2 linked regions of the Homo sapiens genome follow. The protein of the gene in region 1 purifies or fractionates together with the protein of each later gene. This does not show direct contact. Each region holds a gene or a part of one and is shown on either strand. Other genes may lie near its edges. The genes, in order: FARSB and IARS1.

Evidence for each region.
Region 2: the proteins of FARSB (region 1) and IARS1 fractionate together in Homo sapiens (co-fractionation; 2 studies listed by BioGRID). This does not show direct contact.

The regions. Positions count from the first base shown.
Region 1 is NC_000002.12:222,566,282-222,569,281, reverse strand, and holds the end of FARSB (phenylalanine--tRNA ligase beta subunit), read left to right. Parts: 3' UTR 1-2,383; downstream 2,384-3,000.
Region 2 is NC_000009.12:92,241,439-92,248,744, reverse strand, and holds part of IARS1 (isoleucine--tRNA ligase, cytoplasmic), read left to right. Parts: intron 1-1,193; coding exon 1,194-1,368; intron 1,369-3,673; coding exon 3,674-3,786; intron 3,787-5,433; coding exon 5,434-5,529; intron 5,530-6,414; coding exon 6,415-6,591; intron 6,592-7,306. UniProt on the Homo sapiens protein: Catalyzes the specific attachment of an amino acid to its cognate tRNA in a 2 step reaction: the amino acid (AA) is first activated by ATP to form AA-AMP and then transferred to the acceptor end of the tRNA.

The sequences.
Region 1 (3,000 bases):
ATTTTTGGGGGTGGCCAAAATTACTTGTAATGAAAAACCCACTAATGCCTAATTGTATATCCCAGCATGAAAGGGGAAAGATCAACTCCATGCATCATGTAGATGTTTCTGCCCTCGGAAGCAGGAAATGGTAGGCAGAAAAACAGTGTCGGCTGCATTGGAAGAAGCGAATCCAGCTCATGAGTCGAGGCTCTGCAGCCAGATCATCTTACACTTGTCCCTGGTGAAGCATTTGAACTGGAGCCAGGGCAGTCTGTGAGTACTGCCAAAAGCCTTTATTACAGAAGATGCACACCTTCTTAGTAAAAACTGGGAGCTCTAGTATTAAAGTGAAAATTAAATGGAATTGATTTTTGTTCTAGCTTAGAAAAAACTTAAATTCTACCACTACAGCCTCACAGTCCTGCAGTGCTCTTCTAGTTTTGTTTGTTTTTTGTTTTTTTAGACGGAGTCTCGCTCTGTCACCCAGGCTGGAGTGCAATGGCACAATCTTGGCTCACTGCAACCTCCACCTCCTGGGTTCAAGCAATTCTCCTGCCTCAGCTTCCCGAGTAGCTGGGACTACAGGTGTGTGCCACCATGCCTGGATAATTTTTGTATTTTTAGTAGAGACGGGGTTTCACCACGTTAGCTAGGCTGGTCTCGAACTTCTGACCTCAGGCGATCTGTCCACCTCTGCCTCCCAAAGTGCTGGGATTACAGGCGCCCAGCCTGCTCTTCTGTTTTTAAATTATTTTTGAATTGATCTTTTTTCACATTTTAATTTTTTTGGTTTAATAACGGTATGAGAGTAGGAATTCTCCCTGATGTGTAGGGTGAAAACAGTTGAGTTTCAGAGAGATCAATAACTTACTCAGAAGTCACATAGCCAATAAATGAGTTTGAGACACTATAAAAGAGTGACTTGGAGTCCACAGACCACTCACTGATTTGCATTATTTACTTATTTATGCGAAAGTAAATAATGGGACTTTCTACACTTTTTAAAAATATAAAAATAATGGGAGACAAAAAGTTAAAAATTGTTAAGTCCAATACTTTAAAAAAACTCTGCAAACTGTGGCCTTACTGAGTTAATCTACCTTTCTTCCTCCTGATTCCCTGAAGTAACTAACTGCTGTTAACAATTTAGCCTGTATTGTTCCTTAGTTTGGACATTTTCCTTGATTTGTACAGTCAGCCACACACACCTGCTCACATTTTTGGGGGTCATGCTCTACTTACTGGTTTGCAACAAGTTTTGTTTTTTATTTTACATATATCTCATGACATTTCACTTAATATGCCCCATTTTTTCAGGTCAGTGCCTATAGACCTATCTCATTCTTTTAAATGAGGTAATATTCTATTGTACAGATGTCCGTAATTGTTCAATTATTCCCTTGTTGGTGGACATTCAGTTGTTTCCAACTGTTTGCAATTATAAACACTGCTCCAATGAACCCCCTATCCTGCTAAATAGCACTGGCTTAGGACCCCAAGGAAAACCAGTCCTAATGGGTGCAAGACTGTATAAATATCCACATTTGACAGACACATTCAGAGATGCATAGAGTTCATTAGATATTTCTTTGATGTGACGTTTGTACTTGAACTATATATTATTCCAGTACCTTACATCTTAGATGTAGAAGTCGCTAGGTCAAAGGATGTGTTTTGAATTTAAAACATGTTGAATGACTGTTCTCACATTTTAAACAGGAGTAATCTACTACAAACCAGCCAGCCTAACCACTGCCCCTGCTCTCAGCAATGATGGGCTCATCAGCTTGGTAAGAGAGAACATTACTCACAATCTTGCTTCTCAATCTTAATCTATTTGTGCTTGGTGTTTTATATAACATCACTAACCCTAATACTTGAGTATTTACTTTGGCCCTTCTGTCCATTTTATCCAAAAGCAAACAGATAGCCTTCAAGGGACACCATTGCCTTAAGCAGAATATGCCTCCTAAGCATTGAAAGCCTTTGACCCATCTGATATCCAAGTTCTGGCTTATTATGTTATTAGGGCCTTGAATAACTTTATGTATATTATTATGGACTGAATGTATCCCCACAAATTCATGTTGACCCTCTGACCTCCAGTGTGATGGTCTTTGGAGATGAGGCCTTTGGCAGGTGATTAGAGCTAGATGAGGTCATGAGAGGGAGGCCCTCATGAAAGGCTCAGTGGCCTGATAAGAAGAAACACCAGAGAGCTTGCTCTGTTTCTCTGCCTACCTGGCGCACACATACAGAAGAGGTGATATGACCACACAGCAACATGGTGGCCACCAGCAAGCTAGGAGAGGGATCAGAATGAAACCTATTTTGCTGGCACCTTGATCTTGAAATTCTAGCCTCCAGAACTGTGAGAAATAAAATTCTTTTATTGAAGCCACCCAGCCTATAGTCTTTTGTTGTGACAGTCCCAGCAAACTAAAACACATTATTGAAAACTTGCATTCAAAAAGTAGAGAGTGGCATGCATGATAAAATTCAAGGCAGCAGTACACCTCTGGGACAGTCTGTAGCAGTTCCCTAATCTACCTGTATCCATGAGCGCAGATAGGAGTGAAGCCTCCTAGGCTTCCAGTCTGCAGCATCTCTGTCACATGGAAACCTGATGGGTGCCACTGTGAGGGGGGCCAATTATGCACAGTGCACACTAAACACAGATCATTTTAGCCTTCCTAATTAGCCACTAATAAAAAGACACTGAAGTATCCTGAAGATCAAAGAGAGATTTCCACCATGCCTCAATACAAACCCCAGTCCGGGCCTCCGCTTGACAGGTGCTGTGCCTAGTGTTTTGCCCTGACCAGAGTCCATGTAGGGAACATGACCTGCTTAGATAAAAGAAGAGCTGTCAAATGACTGTGCTTGACAAATGGGCCAGGCAGCAAGAAGGGCAACGCAGAAGCAAAGCGGTTTGAGTCTCCGCGATGTCTACTTCATGTTCAGGTATTCTCTGCTTTGGCTTTCTAGTAGGCAGAAAGGATGAGTGAATATTGTAGC
Region 2 (7,306 bases), on another chromosome or scaffold:
ATTAGAAACCAAAAGTTAGATTTTAAATTCTGACATTAGTACCTGTGGCTATGCATAAAATAGAAATTTTTTTTTTTTTTTTTTTTTTTTTTGTGACAGGGTCTCGCTCTGTCACCCAGGCTGGAGTGCAGTGATGTGATCTTGGCTCACTACAGCCTCCATCTCCTGGGCTCGGGCAATCCTCCCACCTCAGCCTCCCAAGTGGCGGAGATTAGGCATAGTAGTACAGGCTTTTGTAGAGATGGGGTTTTGCCATGTTGCCCGGGCTGGTCTCTAACTCCTGAGCTCAAGTGATCCTCCCACCTCGATCTCCCGAAGTGCTAAGATTACAAGTTTGCGCCACCACACCCAGCTGAAAAATTTTGAAATTAACTACTTCACTTAAAATGAGATTAATTAATGTAGCTAAATATAATGGCAAAACTAAACATTCCGTATTATTTGCTTCAAGCTGTTCTCATTTTCCCATCCGCTACTGTGCCATCACCATCCCTGCCGCATCAGTAATCCTCAGTAGCATGACTGAAGCATGAAGTGTTCTGTTTAACTGATCTTCTGCTTAGTTAATAGTTAACCTTGTGGTACTCTGCAATTGCTTGCACAAAGGTTACCTCTGAGGGATGAGGTTTATATTTCTGGGTCTGGAGTCCTTTTTCTGTTATGCTCAACTGTCTTGATAGATCTTCATAACAAGCATTTTCTTCTTACCATACAAATCACTGGTTTTTAAGCATATTTATAGAATGGTACAACTATCACCATAGTTTTAGAACATTTTCCTCGTCCCAGAAAGAAAGCCAGTATTCATTAACATTCACAAACCATTTTCCCCTCAATATCTGACCATTTCCTGGCATCCACGAACCTATTTGCTATCTCTGGATTTGCCTTCTCTGGACATTTCATATAAGTGGAATCATACAATTTGTAATCTTTATGTCTGGCGTGTTTCACCTAGCATAATGTTTCACATTAATTTATGTTGTAGCACATATGAGTGCTTCAGTCCTTCATATTGCCAAATACTCTATTGCATGTGTATGCTGCATTTTGTTTATCCATTCACAGTTGATGGACACTTGAAGTGTTCTTGCTTTCTGGCAGTTAGGAATAATGCTGCTGTGGACCTACATTTTTGTGTGAACATATGTTTTCATTTCTCATTTTTGTTTCCTCTTGTGCATTAACTGTAGGAACTCAATGTTCGAAAAGTTACACTGTCTACAGATAAAAACAAGTATGGCATTCGGCTAAGGGCAGAACCAGATCACATGGTCCTGGGGAAGCGTCTGAAGGGAGCCTTTAAGGCAGTGATGACGTCCATCAAGCAGTTGAGCAGTGAGGAGCTGGAGCAGTTCCAGAAGACTGGTAGGTGTCTACACAGACAAGGGCACCATTTATGTCCTGAGTCTGAGGGATACTTTTTAGGCTACTGTTTGACTTTTAATATCACATCCTTTCCTTTCCTGTCCTGTCGTGTCCCGTCGTGTCCTGTCCTTTCCTTTCCTTTCCTTACTCTCTTCTCTTTTCTCTCTTCTCTCTTCTCTTTTCTTGACAGAATCTCGCTCTGTCATCCATCCTGGAGCACAGTGGCGCGATCTTGGCTCACTGCAACCTCTGCCTCCCAGGTTCAAGTGATTCTCCTGCCTCAGCCTCCCAAGTAGCTGGGATTACAGGCACGTAGTACCATGCCTGGCTAATTTTTGTATTTTTGGTAGAAACAGGGTTTCACCATGTTGGCCAGGCTGGTCTCTAACTCCTGACCTCAGGTGATCCACCCGCCTTCGGTCCCCCAAATTGCTGGGATTACAGGTGTGTGCCACTGCACCGGTCCATCCTTTTCTTAAGTAAAACTTTTTTTCCTGTTGATAAAAATGTTTATTATAAATAATTCTTACAGTTTAGAAAGAAAATAGCTGGGCACAGAGGCTCACATCTGTAATCCCAGCGGCTCACATCTGTAATCCCAGCATTTTGGGAGGCCCAGTTGGATAGATCACTTGAGATCACTACAGGCACATACTACCACACTTAGCCAGATGTGGTGGTATGTGCCTGCCATCCCAGTTACTCTGGAGGCTGAGGTGGGAGGATCCCTGGAGCCTAGGGTGATTTTGTCCTTACTTTCATGGTGCTTGCTGACATTGAAGATTTGGGAAAATAATTATGGTTTTGATAAGTGTTATAAAGGGAAGGTGTAGGGTAACATAAAAACATGTGGGGGTACCTAACCAAATGATGGGATTAGGAAAGGGAAATCAGCCCCATCTTGCTACCCCTATACAGAGCATTTCAGGGTGCCCAGAAATTTGCAGCTCTGCCATGATTAGAATCATACATGGTCTGAGTGTGGCTGTCTGACATCCTGTAACTATCCTGGGGCACAAGCTGTTTATTGTTACGGCTTCCTCTGAAGTTGAAAATCATAAGCTAGGAGATGTCTTGAGAAGAGAGATTTGAGGATTCATAAATCAGATGGGGGAACTGTCCCTAAGATTCTCCAAATATTTAGATAGAATTAATAAAACATAAGACATCAGCAGCTAAACCTCAAGTTATTACTAATTACTAATCAACTCAAAATATTAAAATAACAAAGTGTTACGAGCCTTCAAGCCACAAATCTAAATTGTTCGCCAGATAGCCAAAGCATCAAAAATTCCTGAGATGGCTGGGGGTGGTGACTCATGCCTGTAATCCCAGCACTTTGGGAGGCCGAGGCGGGCAGATCACGAAATCAGGAGATTGAGACTGTCCTGGCTAACACGGTGAAACCCCGTCTCTGCTAAAAACACACACACACACACAAAATTAGCCAGGTGTGGTGGCAGGCGCCTGTAGTTCCAGCTACTCAGGAGACTGAGGCCGGGGAATGGCGTGAACCCAGGAGGCAGAGCTTGCAGTGAGCCGAGATCCTGCCACTGCACTGCAGCCTGGGTGACAAAGCAAGACTCTGTCTCAAAAAAAAAAAAAAAATTCCTGGGCTAAACCTTATTTGAAATTGAAAGCCTAGTTTCTGAGCGTACTGTTCTGCACTGATGGAAAACAAGATCATCTTCAGAACACAGAGACAAAGTAAACATAAAAATGACACCCGGGTGCTCAGAGCCCAAGAAGGTCATCATCAGTGACAACAGTGGGCCTCCCTATCAGCGGGGGTGTTAACATCAGCAGCTGTTCACATTTCTGCCTCCCCTGAACAGGCATGATGCTCAGTACTACACACTGCCCGTCTCATTTTAGCCTCACCACACCTTGCTCAGCAGGTAGCAGAACACCATGTCATACAACCAGCAAATAGTGGACCTAAGTTCACTTTCTCTTTAAAGACTGTATTTTCTTCATGACATCCTGCTGCTCTGTGTTTATGGTGAGCATTTGTTGCCTCTTGGTGCCTTCCCTTAGCTTTGTCATGTCTTTGGACCTGAGAGTTTATATAAAACAGTAGATACTGGTGATGACTTAACTGTCTTCAAGGTAGCATAGTGTAATCTAAAGAAAGTTTGTCATGTCTTGGCTACAACCATGACATGAGTCAGAGGGAAATGATCTCTTGAAGCCTCTGTGGCTTTGTTATTGTGAAATTTTAATCAAGAAGGGGCATAATACACGGGTAGTGGGGCAGCTTGAAGAGGAGGGGAAGCTGATTAACAGTGTAGCTGCTTCTCCATAGGGACCATTGTTGTGGAAGGCCATGAATTGCACGATGAAGACATCCGCCTCATGTACACCTTTGATCAGGCCACAGGTGGGACTGCGCAATTTGAAGCACACTCAGATGCTCAGGTATTTTTCTGTTTCCTAGAACATTTCTTTACCAAGAGATGAGAGCATAAGAGGAGAAAGTATTTGCCTGTGCCTTTCCTGATAATGTTGACAGCTTGTCTCAGGGTAAAATAAACCAGTTACTTGGTTTAGATTGGCTTTATTAAACTAATATATTATTATGCCCTTAACATATGCATTTGTTTAGTGAATACATAAGTAAGCATTTTGTGATTTCTACATGTCAGTCATTGTCCCAAGTGTGGGGTTGCACAAAAATGAACCCTTCAAGGAATGAGTCAGTCAAGGACACCTGAAATTAAGCCAGTTCTTAGTATTCTACCTGATAAGTTATCTGGTAGAAATAAGTACACAGAGGGCTCCTATCCAAAAATAGGTGTAGGGTGAAAAGTGGTCAGGGAACACTCTTTTCAAGAGAATATACAAACTGTTTTAGATTCCAGGATCAATATTTTTTGCCATATTGGAGAAGAGACTATCTCTTTGCAGTCCTGACCAGACATCCCCAGTCAGCATAGTTGTAAGATCTCGCATGTGGGTTTGGGGATATTGCAGGGGTCCCTCTGTGCTTAGCATACCATGTGCAGGGGAAGGTAGAGCAGCACCTCCATGAAAGGAAGGTCGACCTCCTCAGTCCTTTACCCAGGCGCTTAAGTTAGATGTGTACAGAACTCTACGTGGGAAGACAGTGGCAAGGAGTCGGAGGTATCGTAGCTGGGAAAGAAGGCAGGGAGGAGGTTTCTAAACACTGACAGTGGGCAGTTCTTCCTCATTACAGCAGATGTTAGGGGCCTGAAAAGTTGTCCACCTTACAAAAGTGTCATGTGATGCTTCTGAGTTTCTTGACATGGCTTACATGTTGTAGTGGCCCTGCACTGACTGGAATTTTGAGTTTATCATGCATTTCACTACCTCTGATGCCTTTATGAAGTGAGTCATTTCTTAACTTCTCTGTTTACTCAAAGGTAAATGAGATGATGCCTAATGTACAAGTCTTTTGTAGAGTATATTTTACTCTGCAACATGCTGTGTAACAGAAGCGATAGTGTCATTATTGCTACATCATAATCAGCAACCTTCAGAATAGATGAGATAGAAACATTAACCTTAGCAAAAATATGGCAGTTTAAGTCACAGAAAGTTTTGTGGTCCATTGTAGAATTTGTCTTGAGTCGTTCTGACAAACCTGAAGATCACAGGGGTCATGGTATAGGAAAGTCACTTGGAGTTGACTGCGCTGAGGCCGTTGATCCACTTGTTGTGGCCTGAAAAGCTGTGCTGCTCCAAGGGCTTCATGATTATTGATCTTACTTATTAGAAGAGTTGATATTACTTCTTAGATGGCCAAAAAGCAGAGTCATGTGAGGGACTCTGATAAGAGGTGGTCCCAGGGCATCTCCTGTGAGCAGCACCCTACAAAAAAACAAGAAACAAAAACCTGCACACCTTTCTCCAGAGACAGAGGACTAGCTGATTATGAAGAAGTACCTGAATGATAAACTAGATTAATTTTATTGCTTTTGCTCATTTGTGTGAAAAAATAGTGCTGCATTATAGACTCTCCAGATTTAAATAACATTTTGCTGAGTTGGGAAGAAGTGTTTCTCCTTATTTGATTGTCATGGTGTGCACTGTTCATTCCCACAGGCTTTGGTCCTCTTAGATGTCACTCCTGACCAGTCAATGGTAGATGAAGGAATGGCTCGGGAAGTCATCAATCGCATACAGAAACTTCGCAAAAAGGTTAGTTTGTCAGTTAAGAATAAGCTACTGTTTTGGCTTTTTGTTTGTTTTGGTTGTTTGGAGAAGATAGGAGAGGCAGGTAATATAAACCATAGTGATCAATGCATAACAATCACTAATCCATAGTCCATTTGGAATGTATTCTGCAGAAAAGTCACTCCTCTTCCTCTCCCCACGTGTTCACTCCCAAGTCGTAGCTTTCAGCCAGCCTGTGCCTTTTCCCATCCTTTTTTTTAGCTCCGTTGGGCTTCTACAGAATATCCCCTGTGACTGGAGCAGAAGGTAATCAGAGCTGATAGTGTCTTTGCAGAAGGGCAGAGGTGCAGTCAGCATAGACAGGCTTCTAGCTTAGGGGAGATTCCCGGATTTGGACAGAGTTGGGTAGTTTTTCCTTATTAGAGAGCTGAGGAATATGCAGGGAGCTCATCCTGGAGCGCAGAGGGGCTGCAAAGCCCCTGCTAGTGAGAGAATCAGGAATTTCTTGCCCTGTAGAGGGCAGTGACAGCTAACATACATCTTTCTTCCCAGACGGTTCAAGGTCTGAGGAGGCTGTTCCAGCAGATGAGTGGGTGCTTGTGACCTCTGAATCAGTTCAGAGCTTTGTAAGTGGGTTCTAAGTAATTTCTTGGTTTCAACATTCATGAGGTACTGATTGTTCTAGGAAAAGAAACATGCCCTATCCCCCAAAGAGTGGTGAAAAAGACACAAAGTTAATCATGTACTGAGTGCAGTTAGTCTTACGGATCACCCAGCAGGGAGGGAAGGGTGACTGCCCTTCTGTGATGATTCAGCATGGGATCTGTAGCCCTTGTTCAACAGTACCTTCCTTCAGTTCTGATTAATAGAATGTACTTCCCTTTTAAATTTTTCTGTGTGTGTTTTCAGTGCAATCTGGTTCCAACTGATGAAATCACAGTGTACTATAAAGCAAAGTCTGAAGGAACATATCTGAATAGTGTTATTGAAAGCCACACAGAGTTCATATTTACCACCATAAAGGCTCCCTTGAAACCATATCCAGTTTCTCCATCGGATAAAGTCCTTATTCAAGAAAAAACACAGGTGAGTCCTGAGTTCCACTGAACTACTACTAAAGGGTTTCAGATTAGGTTTGACTTTGTGTACTCACGTGTTGATATTCTGTCCCACAGTAGAGATCGGCACAGCACTCTGTCTTGAAGTATTGCTCTGGACAGTAGTGGGTAGAGTCAGAGAGTGGAAGCTCAGAAAAGATGGAGCAGGGAGGGAAGATGGAACTGTTTTCACAACAGTTCTCTTGAGGAAGGTAGCCAGGAGGGTACATGAGCTTTGCCCGGAAATAAAATGGCCTGTTTTTTCTAAAACTAGAAAAGGCAGTGTGTGGATTCTGGTAATTATCATTAAAAGTAAATAGCAATTGGCTTGAAAAACATTTAACTCTTCTGGTAGTGGGTTCTCCATAAAAGTACAGTACAAAAAAAGAAAGATTACAATAGCATTTCTGTTGTTACATCTAGGAATTTTAGATATACTTATGAAAGTATGATATTAAGGTAGGGAAGATATTGGCTTATAACTTAGAAGTAGATCATTTAGACTGGGCACAGTGGCTCACACCTGTAATCCCAGCACTTTGGGAGGCCAAGGCGAGCAGATCGCTTGAGGTCAAGAGTGCGAGACCAGCCTGGGCTGGTGAAACCCCATCTCTACTAAAAATACGAAAATTAGCTGGGCATGGTGGTACACGCCTGTAATCCCAGCTACTCGGGAGGCTGAGGCAGAAGAATCGCTTGAACAC